Linked DNA regions of Homo sapiens. The main gene of each other region encodes a partner of the protein of the gene in region 3 in a complex. Each region holds a gene or a part of one and is shown on either strand. Other genes may lie near its edges.

Region 1 (4,372 bases), on a different chromosome or scaffold from region 3:
CTGGTGTTGATAAAATCTCCACTGCTCAGAAATATGTTCTAGCAAGACGGCGCTTGGTGAAGGTGATCAACAATCGAGCTAAACTGCTTTCCCTTTGTTCTTGTATCCTTTATGAAATCATGCACTTGAATGATGACCTTGAAATATAGGAACTGTTCACTTATTCTCATATTATTTGGGCACCAAAACCAGGTGGAAGGAGATAAACTTAATTTTTTCCCAGTAAATGCCTAATGTATTTCCAAATCATAGTTTTTGTTCTTATCTTTTAGAGTAGCTGGTAATACTGATAAAATACATGGGCACTTTCTGTTAGGGAAGAAGGTAGGGACATGAGACTGCTGGCACAGGACCCCAAGGTCCCCACCTCTTTCCTCAGCACACCTTGCTGCTTCCTCTTGAGGAGCCTTCAGTGAGACCCTGTCTGTTAGACTGAGGCTGTGGGTACCTCATTAAGTGAGTGCAGTCTGTCCTTTTTTCTTCTCCTCCGAAACTGGTGTGTAAAACATATTTGATGAGATTATGTTCCTTTAATCTGAGCTCTGGTATAGTTATCATAGAGACCTGCCTATTTATTCTTTGGCGCCATCTGGAGTACTACTTGTTACATTGCATGCCCACGGATTCTCAAGATTCCTTATTTGCCTCGAGAACCTTGTTTAAAAGCAGAAGACTGCAAGGTAAACTTTCTGCTAAAAATTAATGAACCATAAATACCTATTTGTGCCTTGAAAAGCTAGTACCAGTTTTTTTTTATTTTTGTTTCCAGATTACTTAGAGTGAATTGGGTGAATCAAGAGCTGTTTAGTCACTAGACGTAGCTATTTCTTGCATTTTACTTTCTGTTCACGGGACATTGTGCTGAGCATAAGAATATTCTAGAGCCTGCTCATCAGCTGTTCCTTAGCTTCTTGCTGCAGTTAGGGGGCTGATCCAGCTCTAGAAGAATGGAGGAGGTCTGCTATTATGCTGATTCTTATTGCTGGAGTGGGCCTCTGTGACTGATGGCCATATATTGGATCCCTTAGGTGGAAGGAAATAGAGAAAAGCTGAGAACCCTGGTCTGGACCAGTGAAATGCTTTCTAGGGGCTTCCATTTGCTAAAAGTTGAAAATTGAGTTCCCAATCTTGAGCCGTGTTTTTCATGGTGCTATTGTTATTATTCATTGTCATCAGGTTCCTCCACTGTGTGGTAGATAGGTACTTGCACAGCCGGTATGACTCTGTTTTTTTATCTCTAGATTCCTTCGCCTCAGAAACCAATCTAGATTTTAGAAGTGGGCTGGCTATAGTGAGCCAACATGATTTAGACCAGGTAAGGTTCTATTCTCATATTCTTTTATTTTTCTTCATTAAAGTAAAAGGGCTGGGTGTGATGGTACACATCTGTAATCCCAGCATTTTGGGAGGCCGAGACGGGAGGATTGCTTGAGCCCAGGAGTTTGAGAGCAGTCTGGGCAACATAGTGAGACCCCGTCTCTTAAAAAAAAAAATTGGCATACTGTGGTGGCATGCACCTGTAGTCACAGCTACCTGGGAGGCTGAGGTGGGAGAATCACCTGAGCCTGGGAGACTGAGGCTGCAGTGAGCTGTGATTGCACCACTGCACTCCAGCCTGGGCAACAGAGCAAGACCTTGTCTCCAATAAATGAATGAAAGAGTGAAGCAAGACCTTGTCTCCAATAAATAAATAAATAAATGAATGAATGTAAGTAAGTAAGTAAAAAGGAAAGCCTGGTATGTTAATAAGATTATGATTTTCAGGGTTGCTTACAGACACCTGGTTTGAACTCTAGCTTGACCATTTTAACAGCTATATGACTTTGAACAACTTACTTAACTTCCGAGCCTCAATTGCTTCATCTAAGAAATAGGAGGATTCAACCTCAGAGGGTTTTGTCAGAATTAAGTGAGGTTTCATGTATGTGAGGCTGCTAGTGTTGTACCTAGAACATGGTAAGCATTCCGTGATTGGTAGGCATTATGATCTGGAAACTCCTGATGTCTTTTGATTAGCTTTGTAGAACTTTTTAGGTACAAAGTATCACTCAGCACTTATTTTTCAGGAAATAATTTAATGGTGAGATTGAGAGCAGCCAATACAAATCCCGCCGTCATAGACCATAGTACACAACACTGTGCTCTTACTAACCTGTTGATCAGTAGTGTTAGAATGAATGAAGAGTATGCCAAAAACAATTACAATGAAAACCTCATATTAAACTAATAGCAAAGTTATGTTTCTAACAAAGCAGGTATCAGGGTGTGTGATGTTAGGGAAAATGAATTACAGCTAGATCCTCTGCTAGCCATCTGAATGTCCTTAGCCATGATTTGATAAAGCCTCTGCTCCTCCCAAATCCCTCTTTTTGCTATTTTTCTTAAAACAAGGTTGGGAATGAAAGGTGCAGTTACAGCAGCCTCCAAAGCACAGCTTGCTGGATATCATGAATACCACGCTCCCATCCCAATCCAGACTACATTCGCCCCTTAGTGACTTTATAAAAGGAATTCGTTTTGTGGCTAGGCTTGTTTAGGAGAACTAGTGTTAATTGAGGCCATGTGCAAAATTAGCCAAAGAAGATTATTCAGAAGTTTGTTTGTTTGTTTGTTTTGTCTGAGAGACAAGGTCTCACTCCATTACCCAGGCTGGCATGCAGTGGTGTGACCACAGTTCACTGCAGCCTCAACCCCCTGGGCTCAAGTGATTCTCCCGCCTCAGCATCCTGAGTAGCTAGGACAACAAAAATAAATATATTTTGAAGTAATAACTGTTACTATTTCATTTAGACTGCTTTGTGAAAAAGCTAGAAAAAAATGCAGGATTAATAAATAATCTCACACTCTGTGTTGTGATTTTAATGCAAAACTGAAAACAGGTAGATTGATCTAATATTGTACTTAATTTTAGTCTTTTAGTATAACATCAAAAAGATCCATCTGAAACTACATATGCATTCTAGAATATATATGAATTCTAAAGCATATAACAGGTGTATCCCCACATTAATATTTTTTGAAAACAAAAGCATGCAAGTGGGTTTTTAAAAATTGCAAAATGAAGTAAAAAGTAAAAGCTTCTTTCCCACCTACCCTCCTGTCCTCCCTCCCTCCCTTCCTTCCCTGCATTCTCCTTCCCTCCCTCCCCCGCCAGTCTTACTGACTTCTTGTATGGCCCTTCAGGAAATGTTTTTGTGTGTATGTTAGTATATCAGCATCAGCATCAACATTCATTGCTATTTAAAGCAGGTTTTTAAATTTATACAAGAAAAGAAAGCAGGAAAAACATGAGAATTAAACCAAAAAATTCTAAGGTAGAAAATGTGAATGTTTAGTTAATTTAGTAACACATTACAAAAATTCAAAAGTATTTACATTGAAAGAACCACATTACAAAAATTCTAAAGTGTTTTAAATTGGAAGACTTAGAATAAAAGAAATATTTGAGACAACAATTTTAACAAAATGTCTTTTGTGTCACCGCTAGCTTCAGGCTGATGCAATCAACGCTTTTGGAGAATCACTACAAAAGAAACTTCTGGACATTGAAGGATTATATTCAAAAGTTCGATCTCGATATAGTTTCATACAGGCTCTTGTCAGACGTATCCGTGGCCTCTTGAGGATATCAAGGAACTGAGAGCCCGTGCTTATGCTCTTCTATGAGAGAGATGAATTGGGGAGAATTGTCTCCATTTTATAGATTAGTTTCTTTCTAAATTATGACCAAAAATATTTTGCTATTTCTTTCTTTGTATATGGACATCTTTTCTGTAAACTTCTTCCCCTAGTTCCATCCTCACTAGTAAAAAATAAATACTTTTTAAAAAAACAAAACAAATGTATGGTTAATCTTTTGATCTTTTATCTTTTGATCAGCATTATCAGGAATCTAACAAATAAACCTTCAACAGTGGTGATTTTCCCATAGAGATATTATTCTGAATGCCAGATTAAAGGCATAGTCTGAAAATTCTAATTTTTTCACCCTTTGTAGCTACATTACACTATTAACAATATTCAGGGTTACTAAAATATAGCCATGCTCTTATAGAATAGTGTACTCAATACTGTGAAAATGTCTGAAAAAGTCAAGCTTTTTCCTAAAATTATTTAGGTTTTCCTTTTTTTTGTTTTTTTCTTTTCTGCACGTAAGTTGACAATACAATTGTCCCTTGGTATCTGGTGATTACTGGTTCTAGGGCTCCCACGGATACCAAAACCTATGTTTTGGCATGCATGTTCCTTATATAAAATGGCATTGTGTTTGCATATAATATAGATACATCTTCTTGTATACTTTAAATCATTTCTAGATTACTTACAATACCTAATATAATATGAATTCTATATAAATAGTGGTTAATACTAC
Region 2 (7,035 bases), on a different chromosome or scaffold from region 3:
AGACCAGCCTGACCAACATGGTGAAACCGTGTCTCTACTAAAAATACAAAATTAGCTGGGCATGATGGCACATGCCTATAATCCCAGCTACTTGGGAGGCTGAGGCAGGAGAATAGCTTGAACCCAGGAGGTGGAGGGTGCAGTGAGCTGAGATCACACCATTGCACTCCAGCCTGGGCAACAAGAGCAAAACTGCATCTCAAAAAAAAATGTAAATAAAAGAATGGCTACTCCATAGACAGAGTAGCTCCGAGGGCTGCTGGTTGCCCATTTTTATGGTTATTTCTTGATGATATGCTAAACAGGGGTGGATTATTCATGCCCCCACTTTTTAGACTCCTGATGTAACTTCCTGATGTTGCCATGGCATTTGTAAACTGTCATGGCGTTGATGGGAGTGTAGCAGTGAGGACAACTGGAGGTCACCCTTGTCGCCATTTTGGTTTTGGTGGGTTTTGGCTTGCTCCTTTATTGCAACCTGTTTTATCAGCAAGGTCTTTATGACCTGTATTTTGTGCTGACCTCCTATCTCATCCTGTGACTTAGAATGCCTTAACTGTCTGGGAATGCATCCCAGTAGGTTTCAGTCTTGTTTTACCCAACTCCTATTCAAGATGGAGTTGTTCTGGTTCACATGCCTCTGACAGTTTGTCAGTTGATTAATGGAATAGGAAAAAGGGAACAGCATAAGAGGGAAGAGGAATACCTGTGGGAGTTAATGTTTTATGTAGGGTGGTTGGGCAAGAGCCAGGGGTAAGCTGACATTTGAGCAGAAGAAAGGATATCTGGGGAATGAGTATTTCAGGTGGAGCCTTCCAAGAAAAAGGAATAAAAAGTGCAAAGAACCCTGAAACAGGAGCCTGTTGTGTTCAAAGAGTGGAAAGGAGCCAGGAGTCTGCAGCTGAGTGAACAAAGGGTAGAATAATAAGAAAGAGATAGTTGAGGGCCAGATCAGGGCTTTGTTGGTTATTTTAAGCTTTGGCTTTTGCTCTGAGTAAGATGAGAAGAAGCTGTGGAAGGTTAAAGTGGAGGAATGACGTGATCTAAGATCTGGGCTTCTAAAGGATTGCTTTGACTGCTGTCTTGAGAATAGAGCGTGGTGGGGGAAAGGGTAGGTGCAGGGAGACCAGTTAGGAGGCTGGTGCCACAATTCACACATGATGGTGGCTTAGATCAGGGTGGTAGTGACAGAGGCAGTGAGAAATGTTGTGATTGTGGATATGTTTTCAAGGTGAATTTGTTAGAATTACTGTTGCATTGGATGGGGAGTATACAGAAAGAAAAGAGTCACAGGTGAGCCCTAGATTTTTGGCTTGAGCAATTGGAAGTTAGGGAGATGTCATTAATTGCGATGGAAAAACGTATAGGTGAAGCAGGTACTTTTGTTTTCTTCAGGTTCAGTGAGTCCAGGAGTTCTGTTTTGGACAGGTGTAATCTGAGATGCCTGATAGATATCCAAGTGAGTGTTGAGACAGTAGTCAGGAGTTGAGTGGAGAAGTTGGGCTAAAGATACAGATTGTGAAATTGTTGGCATTAGATCGTGCTTAAAGCTGTTCTACTGAATGAGATCACCTAGAAAGTGAGAATAAATTAGGATTTTTCACCTTCTGCACTATTATTGTCAGCTAAGTCTTCATTGTGGAAGGCTGTCCTGTATGCTATAGGGTGTTAAGCAGCATTCCTGGCTTCTACCCTCTGCATAGCAATAGCACATCTATACCGCCACTTCTACCCTAGTTACAATAACCAACAATATCTCTAGATATTGCTTAATATCCTGGTGAATGAGGAAGAATCGCCCCCAGTTGAGAGCCACTTGAGTAGAGCAGTCTGGGACTGAACCCTGGGGCACACCAACATTTAGAAAAATGACGAACCAACAAAGGAGCCCAAGAAGGAGTAACTGAAGTGAGAGTTGAACAAAGAACGTGGCATCCCAGAAGCTAAGGGAAATGTTTCAAGGAGGAGGAGAGTGAAAACCTGTCAGTGTTGCATTTAAGCCAGGCAAGATGAGAAACGAAAATTGGCCTTTGGATCATGGAGGTCATTGATGACCTGGTCAGGAATTGCTGCAGTAGTCGTACAAAAGCCTCAGTGGAGTGGGTTCAAGAGGGAAAGGGAGGAGAGGAATTGTGAGTATAGAATAGCCCTTCCAAGGTGTATTGCTATAAGGGAAGCAGAGAAATCACATGGTAACCAGAGAGCAAGGGAGGAACAGAGAAAATATAATAATATATCTATGTGCAGTTGGGAATGACCTAGTAGATGCAGTTGAGAGCAATCACTAGAGGAAAGGAATTTGGGGAACTGAGAAGGTAGAGTGTTAGGATAATTGGATATTGTTTATTCATTTGTTTGTTTGTTTTTTTTTAGAGTCAGAGTTTCACTCTGTCACCCAGGCTGGAGTAAAATAGCACAGTCATGGCCTACTGCAGCCCGAACTCCTAGGCTCAATCGATCCTCCCATCTCAGCCTCCCAAGTGGCTGAGATTACAGGCGGGCATCACCATGCCTGGCTAATTTTTTTATTTTGTAGAGATAGGGTTTTGCTGTGTTGCCCAGGCTGATCTCGTACTCCTGGGCTGAAGAAATCCTCCTGTCTTGGCCTCCCAAAATGCTGGGATCATAGGCATGAGCTATTGTACCTGGCCCTGATACTGAAATCATTAAGAATTATGGTGAGAGTAGTGTGGGAGAGAGTGACAGTGGGCCAGGAGCTAAAATCAACTGCAGTGAGCATGGGTAGCAGGTGGTATCTGATTCCATGAGCTTCAGAGCTGAGTGATTCGGGTAGCAGAGGAGGAACAGTGGCCTAGAATGCCAGTGGGGAACAAGGACATCTGTATGTTTTCCTTGAGGCCCCACCCCAAAGGGCATGGTAGAGAAAACTCTGGGGTCACTGTCCTCACGGGAGATCCAGGATCCAACTTTAACCGTAAGGCAGGAAAGCGAAGGAATTATTCAGAGATGAGGTTGAGGATCCAGAAAATTGTGCTGATGCCGTGAGTTACCAGAAGCAAAGTAGCTCTGGGAAATCATCAGCGCTGAAAAGGTACTTACATCCTTGGGAGTAGATAAGATGTGCCTTGGGAGAAAGTGTACAGTGAGAGAAGATGGTCCAGGATCAAGGTTTGAGGAAATCTAGCATATAGGGGTCAGGTCAAGGAGAAGGGGAAGAAATGGACAGGAATGTGGGAGGAAAACTGGGAGAGGGTAGTATCATAGGATTCATGAGAAGAGACTGTTTAAAAAGGAAGGCAAGGTCACATATGTGGAATGCTGCTAAGAGATCAAGTAAGAGGGCCAGGCATGGTGGCTAACACCTGTAATCATGTGGAATGCTGCTAAGAGTCAAGTAAGAGGGCCAGGTGTGGTGGCTCACACCTGTAATCCCAGCACTTTGGGAGGCCGAGGCAGGTAGCACTTTGGGAGGCTTGAGGCCAGGAGTTCAAGATCAGCCTGGCCAACATGGTGAAACCCCGTCTCTACTAAAAAATACAAAAATTAGCCAGGTGTGGTGGTGCACACCTGTAGTCCCAGCTGCTGAGGAGGTTGAGGTGGGAGGATTGCCTGAGCCCAGGAGTTCGAGGCTGTAGTGAGCTATGATTGCACCACTGCACCCCAGCCTGACAGAGTGAGACCCTGTCTCAAAAAAAAAACAAACAAACAAACAAAAATTATCAGATGGTACATGCTCCTTAGAGCCCTCAATCTCTCGAACTAGAGCACGTTCCAGGATCACATGGCCTTCCTTGTAACACTGGCTGTCTTCGGTGGCAAACTCGTAGATCCATCCCAGTTTGCTGCTGCAGTTTTTCAGCTCACATGTTGGACCATGTGGTGGCCAGTGAGCATGACCCAATCTAGAGCTTCATTGTACTGCAGGTTCACTACCTTGTTAAAAAGAAATGCTCTGCCAGTGGCGCCTGTGAACCAAGTGGAGATGAATTCTGAGCGGTTGGTCAGGATTGTATCACAGTTTGCATAAGAAAATGGACAGGTACCACGAATATGATCAAGGAAAATTCTGCCCATTTTTATGGCTGAAGTTCTAAAAACCCTGTGCAGCAGTGAGATCTGTGGCTGCCAGTGGCTCCTTGCTCCTCAGCTGGGATTAATAAACAAGCTCCTTTTGGGGAGGGTGGGGGAAAAAAGAAAAAAATAAATAAACAAGCTCCTTTTGAGGAGTAATAATGAAAGTTAGAATAGCTTAGTATAGAAACTAACCCTGATATGTTCAATTTGCGAAGGTATTTTTATATTAAAATATTTATTTTTGTAATATTTTTGCACATACATGTAAGCGCATGTATAAAATTGCTATTCTGTGTGTGTGTGTGTATATGTGTGCGCATGCATGCTATTGCAGGTTAAGAAGTAATAGAAACAGGAAATAACCGCAATTATTAAGGTCAGTTTTGTTTGATGCTGTAGTATATATGGAGGCCACATTCCACTACAAGCAATGGCCGGGGTATGGTGTTAATTTTTATTATAGTAGAGTTAATTGCATAAAATATTGTCCTAAATAAATGGCCTATCAAGTTTGGAAATGTCTCTATGTAACAGAATCACAGTGAAATTTGGATTTTGTTATGCTGTTTTTTATAAATGTACATAATGTGATTTGGCATGCAAAAGTGGTCCAAATCTGTTTATCCAAAATTTTCAAATTTGGTGAGTTCACTTGGACACTGTTCTCATATATTTCAGTAGAACAGTCAGTGAGAAAAGCATAAACTTTTCAAACAAATGTCTCTTTTTCAACAGGAAGACCTCTGGAGATACATTGGAGCTGATGGAGGAGTCACTGGACATAAATCTGTTGAATAATGCCATTCGCCTAAAATTCCAAAATTGCAGTGTTTTACCTGGAGGGGTTTATGTCTCTGAGACTCAGAATCGTGTGATAATCTTGATGTTAACCAATCAAACAGTGCACAGGTTACTTTTACCACACCCCTCCCGGATGTATAGGAGTGTAAGTTGGCTAAGTGCAATATCTTTTATTTCCCAAATTACTCTGGGTGTCACAAATGTAGTGCTGGAGCGATGTCTTTTGGAATTGAAGGAAATTTGGATTCTCGTTATCCCTCACCAAGCATACTTTGATAGCTACCGCTTAAAATGATCAGGCATACATTTTAAGTTGAGAATTAGTTTTCATTAAGAAGAATAGCTTTCTTAAACTTGACAGTTTTTTACTTTAAAAACTTTTTTAGCAATAGAGAGGAACTGAGCAAAATTCTGGTTATTTTGATTTAATAGATTTTTCTTTTTAATTACTCAACAGGAGTTGGTAGTTGACAGTCAGATGCAGTCAATATTCACTGACATTGGAAAAGTTGATTTCACAGATCCTTGCAACTATCAGTTAATTCCAGCAGTACCTGGAATATCTCCTAATTCCACCGCCTCTACAGCCTGGCTCAGCAGTGATGGGGAGGCCCTGTTTGCCTTACCATGTGCTTCTGGGGGAATCTTTGTTCTTAAGCTACCTCCTTATGACATACCTGGTAAGAATGGGAACTGAGCATGGATTTAACTTTAAACAAGGAATGTTAACATTGAAACAGTTCAACCTCGTCATCCAATGCAGGGATTGCATCTCTACTGCCCCGGAACTGGTCATTCATTATTGCTTGCCTAATGAGTCCCTAATGCTTTACTTTTATACAGTGGATAAGGAACTATAAAGCATATTGGAGCACGGAAAAACAAATAGACAAGTATAAGACAGCCTATTCTAAATCTTGTAGTAGAGATGGGTTGCCTAATTGTCTGCCCTGAGATGGAGGCATTATAACATTATAATTAAATTAATTGAAACAAAGACATTAAATACCCTGCACCAAGTTGCCACTGTGTCTTGCCTGGATTATTGTATTAGCTTTCTATATATCTCCCCAGATCTGTCTTAACCCTCTTCAGACACTTCTCAGGTGGACTGATATATTTAAAACCCAAGGGCCAGGCGCTGTGGCTCACGTCTATAATCCCAGCACTGTGGGAGGCCAAGGCAGGTGGGTCACCTGAGGTTGGGAGTTGGAGATCAACCTGACCAACATGGAGAAACCCCGTCTCTACTAAAAATACAAAATTAGCTGGGCATGGTGGCCCATGCCTGTAATCCCAGCTACTCGGGAGGCTGAGGCAAGAGAATCGCTTGAACCCAAGAGGTGGAGGTTGCGATAAGCCAAGATCGTGCCATTGCACTCCAGCCTGGGCAACAAGAGCGAAACTCCATCTCAAAAAGAAAAACCCAAGTTGGGTCATGTCACTGCACTGTGTAAAGCCGTCCTTTATGTAGTGCAGTGACATGACACAACTTTTCTTTTATTCTTTTTTTTTTTTTGAGATGGGATTTCTCTCTGTCGCCCAGGCTGGAGTACAGTGGCATGATCTCAGCTCACTGCAATCTCCACCTCCTGGGTTCAAGCGATTCTCCTGCATCAGTCTCCTGAGCAGCTGGGATTACAGGCATTTGCCACCATACCCAGCTAATTTTTGTATTTTTAGTAGAGACAGGGTTTCACCATGTTAGCCAGGCTGGTCTCGAACTCCTGACCTTGTGATCTGCCCACCTCAGCCTCCCAAAGTGTTGGGATTACAGGCTTGAGCCACCGCACCTGGCCTTTCTTTCTTTCTTTTGAGACAGAGTCTCACTGTCACCCAGGCTGGAATGCAGTGGTGCCATCTTGGCTCACTGCAACCTCCGCCCCCCCCAGGTTCAAGTGATTCTCATGTCTCAGCCTCCCAAGTAGCTGGAATTACAGGTGTCCACCACCACACCTGGCTAATTTTTGAATTTTTAGTAGAGATGGGGTTTTGCCACATTGACTAGGCTGGTCTCGAACTCCTGACCTCAAGTGATCCGCCTGCCTCAGCTTCCCAAAGTGCTGGGATTACAGGTGTGAGCCACGGCACCTGGCCAACATGACCCAAGGTGGGATTCAAATATATCATGTTATGCTGAATAAACCCAGAGTCCTTACACTGGCCTAGAGTGACCCACTGCTGTCTCCAACTTCATCT
Region 3 (6,995 bases):
CCCTGGACTGGGGCCCAGATGTTCAGGGACCCTGCCTACACCTCATTTCCAGTGTGGGCTGCCTTAGTTAGTTATGAGAACAGGGAAGGGCTGGGAAGAGACAGCCTCCAAGGTCAACACTTGGAGAGGGTTTCACTTGCTCTGAAGACCCTGGTCCAGGATTCGCCCTCTCCCATGCCTTCAAGTCAGCATCAGGCTTAGGGCAAAGACCAGGCCTCTGAAGCTGCCTCTTGTAATTCATGCAGGAAGATGTCAAAGTCAGCCCCATCTTGGCTGATCAGGGTGTTCAGCCTTAACCCCACCTGTGTTCTGAAGTCTCTTACCCTACCTGCTCAGGACTGAGACAGTTATTCACTGAACATATTTATTAAGCACTTGCTGTAGGCCAACAGTTAAGAATCCAATAATGAAATGGACAGATTCATGGAACTTAGAGTCCAATAGGAAAGTGAGACCCAGACAATGACAATGAGATAAATGTTAGGAAGGGGGAGGTATGGGGTGACTTCCCTGCAGTCCTGGGGGCCTAGATGGGCCCAAGACTGGGTGAGAGTCTTGGCAGAGCCTTTGCAACACCTTAAGTGGACAGGACTGGGAGGTCTTGGTGGTTGGAGCCAACGTGGGTTCCCTGCGGCTCCTTAGTCACCTCTGATAGCAGATTGAGGGAGGAAAACAGGTAAGGCATGAGGAAATGGCCAGGTTGGGTTAACCCACTGGTTTCAACCAGTTCAGGAATGAGGTTATTTGGCCATGACTGGCTGATCTTGAGCTCAAGGATCTGCTTCAAATGCACACAGGCCTAGTTGAAGTTTAAACCCCAGCAAAACATTCCTCCCTGTAAATGGAAAATCCTACTTCTACCCCCACCCTGCCCTGTTTTTTGTTTTTTTTTTCCCCAAGATCATTAGATGTCCTCACCCCTCCTCACTGCCTCTCCTCTCTGGGACAGGCTGGGACCTTTGAGGAAGATAAAGCCTTCCTTCACTACCCATCATATTCAGTGTCCCTGTTCCTCACTCAGAGAGGAAGGCAGAACCAGTCAGGCTTATTTCAGTAAGTTCCACAGTTCTACAAGACTGCAGGAATTCTCCTTAAGGGAGGAGAGCAAGCAGGTGTGGCCCCAGCTTCTGGAAATGGCAGAAGAGAGGGTTTTCTCATTGAATGGGGGTGGGGGCTCGTGTGTCCTGGGAAACCCCATCAGTCCCTTCATTTCTTGAGACTCAACTCCTGGGAGGAGAGGGTCTCAAGAGTTGTCCCTGGAAGGAGGGCGGGGGCAGTCTGCATCTATTTCAGGTTGTGGCTCTTGGTTCTAGGACTCTTACTTCTCTGGCTAAGGGCTCAGCTTCTTGGGACTTCAACCATCTTCTTTCTGAAAGACCAAATCTAATGTAACCAGTAACGTGAGGACTGCCAAGTATGGCTTTGTCCCTATGACTCAGAGGAGGGTTTGTCGGGCAAATTCAGGTGGATGAAGTATGTGTGTGCGTGTGCATGGGAGTGTGCGTGGACTGGGATATCATCTCTACAGCCTGCAAATAAACCAGACAAACTTACCAACGTCTTGATTGGTGTATTTTGGGGCTGGTTCTGGGCTCAGCAAATTGCGAACTAGCTAATATAGTAAGAGATTAAATGAGCATGTCCTGTGCCTTTTGTCTGAGACAGCTGAAATTCACTTATCCTAACCACCTCCCTGCAAGAGACAGGTTCTATTATGTCATCCTTGTTTCACAACTGAAAAGTAGGCTTGAATAAGCAATGTGCTGCAAGCCAAACAGTAAATGGCACAATCCGACCCCCCTGGAGCCAACCCATGAGGTCCAAGTTAAGAACCTCTGTCGGCCGGGCGCGGTGGCTCACGCCTGTAATCCCAGCACTTTGGGAGGCTGAGGTGGGCGGATCACGAGGTCAGGAGATGGAGACCATCCTGGCTAACACGGTGAAACCCCGTCTCTACTAAAAATACAAAAAATTAGCCGGGCGTGGTGGCGGCCGCCTGTAGTCCCAGCTACTTGGGAAGCTGAGGCAGGAGAATGCTGTGAACCCGGGAGGCAGAGCTTGCAGTGAGCCGAGATCGCGCCACTGCACTCCAGCATGAGTGACAGAGTGAGACTCCGTCTCAAAAAAAAAAAAGAACCTCTGTCCTAGAGCATTTATAATTCACTACAGAAATGTATTCTATGAAGGACTTTAATACCATCAGTCAGCCTTATCCAGACGATCTCAATTCTAATCCTGTCACCACCACTTTCTGACTGAGGGCTATTGGAGAATTTTCTCAACTTCTCTGTGCCTCCCTTACCTCATCAATTATTATTATGTATGTGTATGTGTGTGTGTGTATATATATATATATGTGTGTGTGTGTATATATATATGTGTGTGTGTGTGTGTATATATATATATATATATATATTTTTTTTTTTTTTTTTTTTTTTTTCTGAGACAGAGTCTCACTCTGTCACCCAGGCTGGAGTGCAGTGGCACAATCTTAGCTCACTGCAACCTCCACCTTTTGTGTTCATGCGATTCTCCTGCCTCAGCCTCCTGTATAGCTGGGAACACAGGCGTCCGCCACCACACCCGGCTAATTGTTGTATTTTTAGCAGAGACGGGGTTTCACCATGTTGGCCAGGCTGGTCTCGAGCTCCTGACCTCAGGTGTTCCACCCACCTCGGCCTCCCAAAGTACTGTGGTTACAGGCGTGAGCCACTGCTCCCAGCCTATTTTTATTTACTTTTTTTTTTTTTTTTTTTTTGAGACGGAGTCTCGCTCTTTCGCCCAGGCCAGACTGCAGTGGCGCTGTCTCTGCTCACTGCAACCTCCGCCTCCCGGGTTCACGCCATTCTCCTGCCTCAGCCTCCCGAGTAGCTGGGACTACAGGTGCCCGCCACCGCGCCCGGCTAATTTTTTGTATTTTTAGTAGAGTCGGGGTTTCACCGTGTTAGCCAGGATGGTCTCCATCTCCTGACCTCGTGATCCGCCCGCCTCGGCCTCGCAAAGTGCTGGGATTACAGGCGTGAGCCACCGCGCCCGGCCTTTTATTTACTTTTTGAGACAGGGCCTGGCTCTGTCACCCAGGCTGGAGTGCAATGGTGCAATCACAGCTCCCTGTAGCCTCAACCTCCTGGGCTCAGGCAATTCTCCCACCTCAGCCTCCCGAGTAGCTGAGACTACATACGCATGCCATCACTGCTGGCTAATTTTTGTGGTTTTGTTTTGTTTTTTATAGAGACGGGGTCTCGCCATGTTGCCGAGGCTGGTCTCAAACTCCTGGTCTCAAGCAATCCTCCTGTCTCCGCCTCCCAAGTGCTGGGATTATAGGCATGAGCCACCCGCGTCTCATCAATTAAATAAATAACCCCTAGGACGACTAAGATGTCTTCAAGATTACATGAGATCCCACATCTGAAGGTTTTTGCAAAGGACTTGGCACAAACTCGTGCGACTAGACATGGATATGGCTCTTGCTCTGGAAAGGATCACCTTGATAGGAGCAAACAAAGCTGGTCTTCGGTGCCCTTTAATCTCCCCTCCCAGCCTTCCACCTTCCACACTTTAAGAGTCGTCCCTGCCGACCCCCCGACCCCGTTTTTCTGAACCTCCCTTCCTCCCCTTGCATAGTCCAAAGCCTCTCTCTAAAGCAGCCCCCCGAAAACATCTGTCAAGTTCCAAACTTATCTGAATCGGAAGCTACCAATAGCCAACCTACATCTAAGGGGAACTGTAAGATTTCAGAAGAACAAGAAGCATAGGTCGCTTAGGCGTGGGCCACCCAAGAAGAGAGACTTAACACTAGGTAAGCCCGCGCTGGCTGCGAAGGCGGGAGCGGCACCAGGACCATCCAGGGCGCAGGCGCAGGGACCTCACGGCCACGCCACTACTCAGCCCGAGCTGGCCAATGGGGAGCGGCGGCCGGAAGAACGCGCGGCTTCGCTAGGTTCCGCGGCTTCCTCTGACCAAGCTTGACGTCACCAAAGCGCGCCGGAAATGCGAGGTCAACTGCGCGCCGCTGGCGCTGAGGGGAGGAAGTTTGCTGTCGAGCGGCCTGGGTTCCGTGGGCAAGGCCGTGGGAGGCAGCGTTGGCTGCTTCGACACACTGAGGGCGGCGCGATGGGAGACGAGATGGATGCCATGATTCCCGAGCGGGAGATGAAGGTCAGAGACTAACCGGGGCCTCCCTCCCTTCTTTAGTCCTGGCGTTGCCTTGGAGCCCAGCTGAAAGGCGAAGCGCGGTGCTGGCTGTCCCGCCTCCTGCTTGAACAGTTTACCGCGTTCACAGCTCTCACCAGCGCGTCTGCCGCGCCGCTGGCGTGATAGCCCCACCGAATGCAGTTTCCCAGTCCCATCCTGGTCTCGTGCACGGCTGTTGAGTTACCCTAGCTACTTCCTGGGGCGGTCACAATAGTGGCAATAACTGCTGTTTATTGAGTGTTGACTGTGTGCCAGGCACTGTGGTAGTCATCGCGGCAGCCCTACGAAGTAGTCGTTAACGTAGAGGAGTAAGTTGAGGCTCGGAAAGTAATTTCCCTAAAGTCACATTTGACGCGGGGCTGAAAGCCAGCATCATTTAAGACCTTTGCTCTCCCAGTACTTCTGTAAGGTGATACGGGCTTGCCTAACGTAGAGTCAGGGAAGGTCATCCATCCTGCAGAACCTTTAGTTGATTGGACTAGGAAGACTATTTTGACCTCGGTATATCAGCCTAAAGTCAGGAACCTAAAGGGAGGGCCAAGTGGTCCCAGTGATAGCAACGTGGGAGTCCCCCAGGGATAACTTCAGGATGGTGTGTTTAATAGTTCTTATATGGGTTCTGACAGAATGAGGGTACAACAGACGGGCTACATCTGTTTTAAATAGTGAAAAGAAGTAAGTTGCAGGAAGATTTTAGGCATCTGTGTGAACAATAAATCACTAAAATGCATTTAGGGCATAGTAATACCATGTTTAGAATAGTGATTTTTTTTTTTTTTTGAGACAGAGTCTTGCTCTGTCACCCAAGCTGGAGTGCAGTGGCATGATCTCGGCTCCCTGCAACCTCCACCTCCCCGGCTCAAGCGATTCTCCTGCTTCAACCTCCCTAGTAGCTGGTATTACAGGCGCCTGCCACCACGCCCCACTAATTTTTTATATCATTTGGTAGAGACTGGGTTTCACGATGTTGGCCAGGCTGGTCTCGAACTCCTGACCTAACGTGATCCGCCCTCCTCTGGCTCCCAAAGTGCTGGGATTATAGGCGTGAGCTACCGTGCTGTCCTAGAATAGTGATTATTTTTTGAGAATCACCACCTGTGGTGAGCCACCTAATGGGGTTGTGTCATATTCCTCAGATATGCTGGGGTAGAAGAAAAAAAGGTTTTATTAATAGAACCACAGACTTAGAAGATGGTAATCTCGCACTCCCTTTGGCAGCACATATAAAATTGGGATCATGCAGAGAAGACTATTATGGCCCCTTTACATGGATGACAGACAAATTCATGAAGTGTTCCATATCAGAAAAAAATGAGGGCCGAGTGTGGTGGCTCATGCCTGTGAGCTTGCACTTTGGGAGGCTGAGGTGGATGGATCACTTGAGGTCCGGAGTTCGAGACTAGCCTGGCCAACATAATGAAACCCTGTGTCTACTAAAAATACAAAAATTAGATGGCCATGGTGGCGGGTGCCTGTAATCCCAGCTACTTGGGAGTCTGAAGCAGGAGAATCGCTTGAACCTGGGAGGCAGAGGTTGCAGTGAGCCAAGATCGCTGCACTGCACTCCAGCCTGGACGACAGAGCGAGACTCCATCTCAAAAAAGAAAAAAAGACAATTGAGACAGACCTTGGTCTCAGTAATACATATTTTTGTTGTACTGAAATTGGGTCTACTGAATATAACATGTTTTAATTTCTTTCTTTATTGAATTGATCTCGTTTTGATTCTTCACAACAGGATTTTCAGTTTAGAGCGCTAAAGAAGGTGAGAATCTTTGACTCCCCTGAGGAATTGCCCAAGGAACGCTCGAGTCTGCTTGCTGTGTCCAACAAATATGGTCTGGTCTTCGCTGGTGGAGCCAGTGGCTTGCAGATTTTTCCTACTAAAAATCTTCTTATTCAAAATAAACCCGGAGATGATCCCAACAAAATAGGTAAGTTCCCTGGTTTATGTTGCAAAGTAGAGAGAGGAGTATGGTGGCATGCTCTTGTGTTTCCTTCCCAAGAAGTCATTCTAATACTAAAATGAACACTGCTGTCAGTTTGAAGGTTGACTCCCAAGAAGATTAATGGAAGCCTTTCTAGGTTTTCTCCTTGGTCCTTTGTATTTCTCCTTACATGAGTTGTTCCTCTCAGCTCAACAGGGAAGAACTTAACCATTATGCCATGCTTTTATTTTTGCTCAGTTGAACTTGGGCTCTGGCTCTCTGGGTGAAGGGTTTTATTGGCATGGGTTTTCAGTTGGCACAACAGTATGATCCAAACTATTGGCAAGGTGTACTATTTAGAGCATTGTTGCAAAAATATTTTCAACAAGGGCAGCAGCCACAGTTAGTTTCCCCAGATTGTATGAGGAAGAATTCCAGGGATACTTAATCCATCATTATATATCTTTAAGAAAGTTAAGATTTATCTGTATAACTAGGTATTGGGGTGTATGTGTGTTTATGTAGATGCAAAAATTTTTTCACATCGAACTGGATAGAGGTTGTGGCTTTATGCTTAGAACATACCGTTTTCTGCTTTGTATTTTTTTGTTTTCATAGTTGATAAAGTCCAAGGCTTGCTAGTTCCTATGAAATTCCCAATCCATCACCTGGCCTTGAGCTGTGATAACCTCACACTCTCTGCGTGCATGATGTCCAGTGAATATGGTTCCATTATTGCTTTTTTTGATGTTCGCACATTCTCAAATGAGGTAAGCTACTGTTATACTGTGATGTCAACATGAGAACCCTAAGCAGATTTCCTTGTATTGAATTACAACTTGGAAGCTTCATAGGTTAACCCTTGAAGTTTCT
Region 4 (7,035 bases), on a different chromosome or scaffold from region 3:
GAGCAGTAGGACACAAGATTAGGGGGTTAGTTTAAAAAAAAAAGAACAAAACAAAAGTATGTATACTCTTGTACATCAAGAAAAGAAAGATTTTATTCCAAGTGCAATAAGAAGGCATCAGAAAGTTCTGGGTAAGACAGTCGCATGTATTTTATTCTGAAAGGGTCACTAGTCCATCTGTATAAGGAACGATTGTATAAAGAACAGTGAGAAGCCACGGAAGACAGTAGAGGCTTGGACTAGAATGTGCTAGAGGTAGAGGTAGTGAAAGGTAGGTAAAGATGACCTGCCTGCTCCATTCTCTCTGCCATTCCTCTGTGCCACCAGCCCCAACACTAAGGGGACTATTCCAGTTATTTAAAAACTTGAGGGGTAGCTATACGAAAACAGCACATAATGCTAGGGCTATTGTGTACAGCCGTGCCTTGTACAAGGGTGGCTGGCCAAGCAAGTAAGTGGGGCTGAAATCTAGCCTGTGTTCTGTCTTACATATTGTGTGCACTTGCCATGGAACCTATCTATGTAAGGGAAGGGAATTCCAATTTTTTTTTTTTTTTTTTGAGACGGAGTCTCCCTTTGTTGCCCAGGCTGGAGTGCAGTGGCGCAATCTTGGCTCACTGAAACCTCCGCCTCCCTGGGTTCAATCGATTCTCCTGCCTCCACCTCCCTAGTAGCTGGGATTACAGGCGCGAGCCACCACACCCGGCTAATTTTTTGTATTTTTATTTTTATTTTTGAGACAGAGTCTCGCTCTGTTGCCAGGCTGGAGTGCAGTGGCGCAATCTCGGCTCACTGCAACCTCCGCCTCCCAGGTTCAAGTGATTCTTCTGCCTCAGCCTCCCAAGTAGCTGGGACTACAGGCACGTGCCACCATGCCTGGCTAGTTTTCTGTATTTTTAGTAGAGACAGGGTTTCACCATATTGGCCAGGATGATCTTGATCTCCTGATCTTCTGATCCACCAGCCTTGGCCTCCCAAAGTGCTGGGATTCAGGCGTGAGCCACCGTGCCCGGCCAATTTTTTGTATTTTTAGTAGAGACGGAGTTTCACCATATTGGCCAGGCTGGTCTCGAATTCCTGGCCTCACGTGATCTGCCCTCCTCGGCCTCCCAAAAGTGCTGGGATTATAGGGATGAGCCACCGTTCCCAGATAGAATTACAATTTTCTAATTCACATACAAGTGACACGTGTTAGCAGGGGCCTTGAACAATGCCCTACGTCATTGACTATGTAAGAGTATTAGGCTCAACAAAGGTGATTAAAATGTTATTAATCATTTAACTGTTCAAGAAATCTCTTTTCTGGATTAGTTTTAAAGAAATAATTGAGACTGAAGTTTTAAAGAAATAATTGAGACTGAATATTGATTTTAAAATCCCTGATGAAACAAAATGGTGTATCATTCATTGCCTTCCATCTCAACTCCATTTTTTTTTTTTTTTTTTTTTTGAGACAGGGTCTCACTCTGTCACCTAGGCTGAAGTGCAGTGGCACGATCTCGGCTCACTGCAACCTCTGCCTCCTGGGTTCAGGCCATTCTCCTGCCTCACTAGTAGCTGGGACTACAGGCATGCACCACCACACCAGGCTAATTTTTTTGTATTTTTAGTAGAAACGGGGTTTCCCCATGTTGTCCAGGCTGGTCTCAAGCTCCTGACCTCAGGTGATCCACCCACCTCAGCCTCTCAAAGTGCTAGGAGTACAGGCGTGAGCCACCACGCTTGGCCTCAACTCTAATTTTATGAGATCCCAAGACTATTTTGTGGCTTTCACTACCTAATCTACTTAATTAATAATTAGAATAGCAAAGATGTATGTATAAATAAAGCATTGAAGTCTTTTCAAAATTTAAGTGACACTTAATTAGCATTTTACAACATTAAAATTTTATCTTCAAGAGAATCAGCATGAATCAGATGAGAAAGGTTTTGCCAGAGGAACCTGTGGAAGGTTTAAAACGAGTCAAAGGAGTTCTATTACGAACGTTAGGATAAAAAGTGGAGACTTGGCTGGGCGCAGTGGCTCACGCCTGTAATCTCAGGCACTTTGGGAGGCCAAGGCAGGTGGGTCACCTGAGGTCAGGAGTTCGAGACCAGCCTGGCCAACATGGTGAGATCCCATCTCTACTAAAAATACAAAAATTAGCTGGGTGTGGTGGTGGATGCCTGTAATCCCAGCTACTTGGGAGGCTGAGGCAAGAGGATCTGGGAGGCGAGCCAAGATTGTGCCATTGCACTCCAGCCTGGGCGACAAGAGCAAAACTCTTTCTCAAAAAAAAAAAAAAAAAAAAAAGGTGGCGACACATTGACTCATGCCTGTAATCGCAGCACTTCAGGAGGCCAAGGTGGGAGGACAGCTTGAGGCTAGAAGTTCAAGACCAGCTTGGGCAACACAGCAAGATCCTGTGTCAAAAACAAACAAACAAAAAAGCCAGGCATGGTGGTGTGTGCTTGTTGTCCTAGCTACTGGGGAGGCTGAGGCAGAAGGACTGCTTGAGCCCAGAAGTTTGAGGCTGCAGTGAGCTATGATGAAGCCACTGTCCTCCAGCCTGGGTGATAGAGCAAGACCTTGTCTCTAAAACAAAAAAAGAAAAAATAAAGTGGAGACATTTAAGATAATTACTCCATCAGTAATAGTGGCAAATAGGGGCTCAAATTTAGTTCGCTGTCCTGCCTGTATTCTTTTTCCTCCTTCTGGTCAGAGAAGACAGGCTAAAAAAAAAATGCAATAGCTAAAATTAAAGAAAAAGTACTAAATAGATGAGGGTATGAAGAATGGCAAAAGGAAAGATACCAAGAACACTTACTGTTTTCTTTGTTCAAAATAACACATCAAATATCCAAGAAGCCAGTATTTCCAGCTCTCAGACAGCTCCTCAGGTCTACAGAGGATAAACTAAGCTACTCACTGTTTCTGTCATGCACCAGGGTCAGGCTGCAATGTCTTTCCCTTATATGACTATTATCTCAGTATCCTTCCTTTCTCCCATCTCAGCTCATCCAAATTCTACCAGTATGTTCAAGATTCAGTCAAATGCTATACATTTCAAGCATACGTTCCAGTTCCCTTTCAGGTGAAAACAATCTTTTCTTTTCCTGGACTCAGAAAATACTTAACCTGTGCCTTTCTTATGGCACTTGATACTTCTGTAGCTGGTTCTCAACACAGGCTATATATTATATTAAAGCACTGCAAGTGATTAAAAAAACAAAAATAAACCCCAGCCCTACCTCAGACCAATTACACCATAATCTCTGGGAGTGGAACCCTGTAGTGTTTTTAAAAAGTCTGCCAGGTCATTAAAATGGACAGCCCAGAGGTGAGAGCCCCTACCTTAGCTATGCCTTACTGATACTACTCGAGTTATCTTTATATCTGTAAATGGAGTGACATACATGTATAATTAAATTTTTAGGTCCAGAATTTTTTAAAAATTAGATTTTTGTATCCTCTGTGAACATAGTAAATGTGAACTAATAGTTTATCCAAGAATCAAATATTCCCATTCCCTAGGTAGTATTTTCAGTTTAGCTTAAAACATGGGATTTAGCTATATCTACAATTATGTAAAATCTGTAGATGCTCCCATTTAGAGACAGAATATTTTTAAAAAAGAACATGGTGAGTGTTTTGGTTTTTGGCTATAAACAATGCACACAGCTTACCTCTCTAACATCCACCATCCACCCTCCATCAACAAACAACAAGACGTTATACATTTTCTCCTTCACATCAGCAGTTAGGGCATCCAAATGCCCTTTCCAAATACCAAAATCCATCTGCAAAACAAACACAAGGCAGACATATAATGGATAAAACCCAATAAATAATGTATTTGGAAAATACAGACAGGAACATACATATAGAACATCATTCTAAAGAGTTGATGTTTCAGTCTGCCAAGTACAAAAATAAGTATCAACAGACTGCAGTTAAGTAAAACGCTAAAATGTTAACTTTGTAAATGAACGCTCATGTCACCTGAAGGCATTTTTCATGTTTGGTTAATTACCTACAGAAAAGTAACTAAACAGATTGCATCTTCCAAAGCAGGACATTAACAGGGAGATTACCTGTTATGATCGAAAGATAGTTGCTGAAGAAACGATCTCTTTAAATATACAACACACATTTATAAGATGCAGTAGGCACATCCTAGATCCATATTTAACTTACTTCATATTTCTTTTCTTTGTGTTCATGAGCCACTTTCTCAGTAAAAGTTGGTTGAGGTATCAAAGCAGGTTTTTGTGGAACTGAATTCATATGCTTAAACCACTCATTAAAGGTTTCATGGGCTTCCTAAAATGTGAAATAAAAAAACCAAAATATAAAATAACAAAAGTTTTCACTTTTATCGTTTCACCAACATTTTTAACATTTGATTCTTAGAAATAATTTTGCAGCATCAAGAAATAAAACTGTTCAATATATATTTTTTTCCCTCCAAAAATTCATATCATGAATAAATGTTTTGTCAAGTGACAAACAAGGTATATATATTGTGTTTTCTGGCATATTCTCCAATCTGAGCACCCTGATCGTATATGTATCTTGACATTCATCGCTCTGTAACATATGCATGTGTACTTGTCTTCTTAACTAGCCTATTAGTTTTTAGAGGGCAAGGATAGGGTGCTATCCACAGATTTGGCCCTACTACCTAACCCACTGTAATTACATAATTATTTATTGAATAAAATTTTTTTTTTGTTTTTGAGACAGGACCTTGCTCTGTCACCCAGACTGGAGTACATGATCTAATAAAGACAAGGCATGATCTCTGCTCACTGCAGCCTCAACTCCCTGGGCTCATGCGATCCTCCCACCTCAGCCTCTGAAGAAGCTGGGACTACAAGTACATGCTACCATGCCTGGCTAATTTTGTTTTATTTTTTTGTAGAGATGCAGGGGTCTCACTGTGTTGCTCAGGCCAGTCTTGAACTCCCAGGCTCAAGCAATGCTTCTGCCTTGGCATCCCGAAGTGTTGGGATTATAGGCGTGAGTCACCGCATCTAGCCTTGAATGAATTTTGAATGAGTATGCTGCTATTTTAGTCATAACAAACCTAGAGCATCTTGCTTTTTCTCAGTTATTGAAAAAAGCAGAAATTTAAAGCTGAGACATGCATCACAAAATCTTAAGAAAACATAACTTCCAGACATCATAGACACTATCTACCATGTGAGATGATCTTGGTTGGTTAGCATTGATTAGAGAATCATGCTAATGAAGATAAGGTCATGAAGTCAGTCCCCTTGTGGATGAGTCAGCACTATAGTCACAAGAGAGGTAAGATGAACCAACACTACTTCTAGAAAAAAGTTCAAACTCTGAGAGTGAATCCGAAAAATCATCATGAAGTAGGCACATCTGTGGCTTTCTTTACAGTCTCACCAAATAAGCTCTGATGCACAAATGTTCTCGGATAGCATTATCATCTTCAGCAGGAAGTGGACTTTCCATTCCTTGTTCCTCGCACTGATTATAGATTTCTGCTATAGAATCCTGAGGAATTTTCACAAATACTTCTTTTGCAGCTTCGTGCTTTTTTGATGCTGTGAAAAAAGATACACAATTTTGAATGCCTACGGACTTCTCTGTAATGGTTTCTAAAGGAGTCAAATCACTGGTTTACCAATTTTACAGTGACCTGTAACTATTTCAGGGCCCAAGGCACTCTGTTAAAGGTCTTGGTGATCTTTCTACCTGATAGACTGGCTTTTTCGTATCTCAATGTGATACTATCACAAAAGGATACATCAAATGCAGTTACTTTTACATACTTTTATGTCTTAAAGCAATTCATTTTTCAAAGTCGGATAGCCTTGAGATTATTTGCAAAATTGATTAGGACAATGAAAATTCACCATTAAAATATATTTTGTTTCATAATACCAGGTTTGATAGATAAAGAGTGGCTGGTTTTCTCCTCCCTATGGAAGGATCAAAAACAAAAAGCAACCCCCCACCCCAAATTCAAAAATACACGAATTTGAACAAAAACGTTTTAAAAAAGAATAAAAAATCTGGGTGTGGTGGTTCACGCCTATAATCCCAGCACTTCAGGAGGCTGAGGTGGGAGGATTGCTTCAGGCCAGGAGTTCGAGACCCGCCTAGGCAACATAGTGAGACCCCATCTCTAGAAAAAATTTTTTAAAAATTAGGTGGGTGTGGTGGTGGGTGCCTGTAGTCCCAGCTACTTGGGAGGCTGAGGTAGGAAGAAGAATGGAGCCCAGGAGTTTGAAGCTGCATAAAAATATACTATACCCAAGAATTTTCTCATAATTGCATTGCCTTGTTTCAGTGCTTCTGCCCTCTGCGCTGGGTCAAATACCAACCAGTCAATTACATCAATTTTTAAACGATCCTCCTATTTATTAAAGGGGAAAAAAAGAAAAAGGAATATCAGAGTTTTTTTTTTAAAGATATTCTACAAATTAGTAGAATTAACTTACACCTGTACTTCCAGTAAACATCATTTTCTCTCAAGTTATACAAAATTATGAAAGCATCTAACTTTCCTTAGTGTATTTTCATATTTAACAGCTCTCTATTAAATTATAGAAAATACTGCTGGGCATGCTGGCTCACACCCGTAATCCCAGCACTTTGGGAAGCCCAGGCGAGCGGATCTCTTGAGCTCATGAGTTCGAGACCAGCCTGGACAACATGGCAAAACCCCTTCTCTACAAAGAATACAAAAAATTAGCCAGGCATGGTGGCACATGCCTGTAATCCCAGCTACTCGGGAGACTGAGGGAGGGTGGCTTGAGCCTAGAAGGCGAAGGTTGCAGTAAGCAGAGATAGCGCCACTGCACTCCAGCCTTGGTAACAGAGCTAGACCTTGTTGTCTCAAGAAAATAAAAATAAAAATAAATTATAGAAAATATTAATCTGGAATTATATATTGTATGCCTTACCAACTTAACCACGTGATTCCTTTAAATGTTACTCTAAAATAGTTTTCTTAGATATAACTTTCTATTCCTTTCTGAAAATATGAGTAAGCAAGCTACATAAGTTAGTGATTA

What was found.
Region 1: NUP214 (region 3) and NUP205 share a complex: the UniProt entries of both Homo sapiens proteins name them as parts of the nuclear pore complex.
Region 2: NUP214 (region 3) and NUP160 share a complex: the UniProt entries of both Homo sapiens proteins name them as parts of the nuclear pore complex.
Region 4: NUP214 (region 3) and NUP107 share a complex: the UniProt entries of both Homo sapiens proteins name them as parts of the nuclear pore complex.

The regions. Positions count from the first base shown.
Region 1 is NC_000007.14:135,644,917-135,649,288, forward strand, and holds the end of NUP205 (nuclear pore complex protein Nup205), read left to right. Parts: coding exon 1-102; intron 103-551; coding exon 552-680; intron 681-1,241; coding exon 1,242-1,315; intron 1,316-3,487; coding exon 3,488-3,640; 3' UTR 3,641-3,837; downstream 3,838-4,372. UniProt on the Homo sapiens protein: Plays a role in the nuclear pore complex (NPC) assembly and/or maintenance. May anchor NUP62 and other nucleoporins, but not NUP153 and TPR, to the NPC.
Region 2 is NC_000011.10:47,838,324-47,845,358, reverse strand, and holds part of NUP160 (nuclear pore complex protein Nup160), read left to right. Parts: intron 1-3,671; exon of another isoform or gene 3,672-4,115; intron 4,116-4,770; coding exon 4,771-4,981; coding exon of another isoform or gene 4,982-5,131; exon of another isoform or gene 5,132-5,293; coding exon 5,294-5,516; exon of another isoform or gene 5,517-5,858; intron 5,859-7,035. UniProt on the Homo sapiens protein: Functions as a component of the nuclear pore complex (NPC). Involved in poly(A)+ RNA transport.
Region 3 is NC_000009.12:131,121,592-131,128,586, forward strand, and holds the start of NUP214 (nuclear pore complex protein Nup214), read left to right. Parts: upstream 1-3,994; 5' UTR 3,995-4,113; coding exon 4,114-4,158; intron 4,159-5,932; coding exon 5,933-6,128; intron 6,129-6,740; coding exon 6,741-6,892; intron 6,893-6,995. UniProt on the Homo sapiens protein: Part of the nuclear pore complex. Has a critical role in nucleocytoplasmic transport.
Region 4 is NC_000012.12:68,731,976-68,739,010, reverse strand, and holds part of NUP107 (nuclear pore complex protein Nup107), read right to left. Parts: intron 6,375-7,035; coding exon 6,272-6,374; intron 5,560-6,271; coding exon 5,399-5,559; intron 4,304-5,398; coding exon 4,178-4,303; intron 3,781-4,177; coding exon 3,667-3,780; intron 1-3,666. UniProt on the Homo sapiens protein: Plays a role in the nuclear pore complex (NPC) assembly and/or maintenance. Required for the assembly of peripheral proteins into the NPC. May anchor NUP62 to the NPC. Involved in nephrogenesis.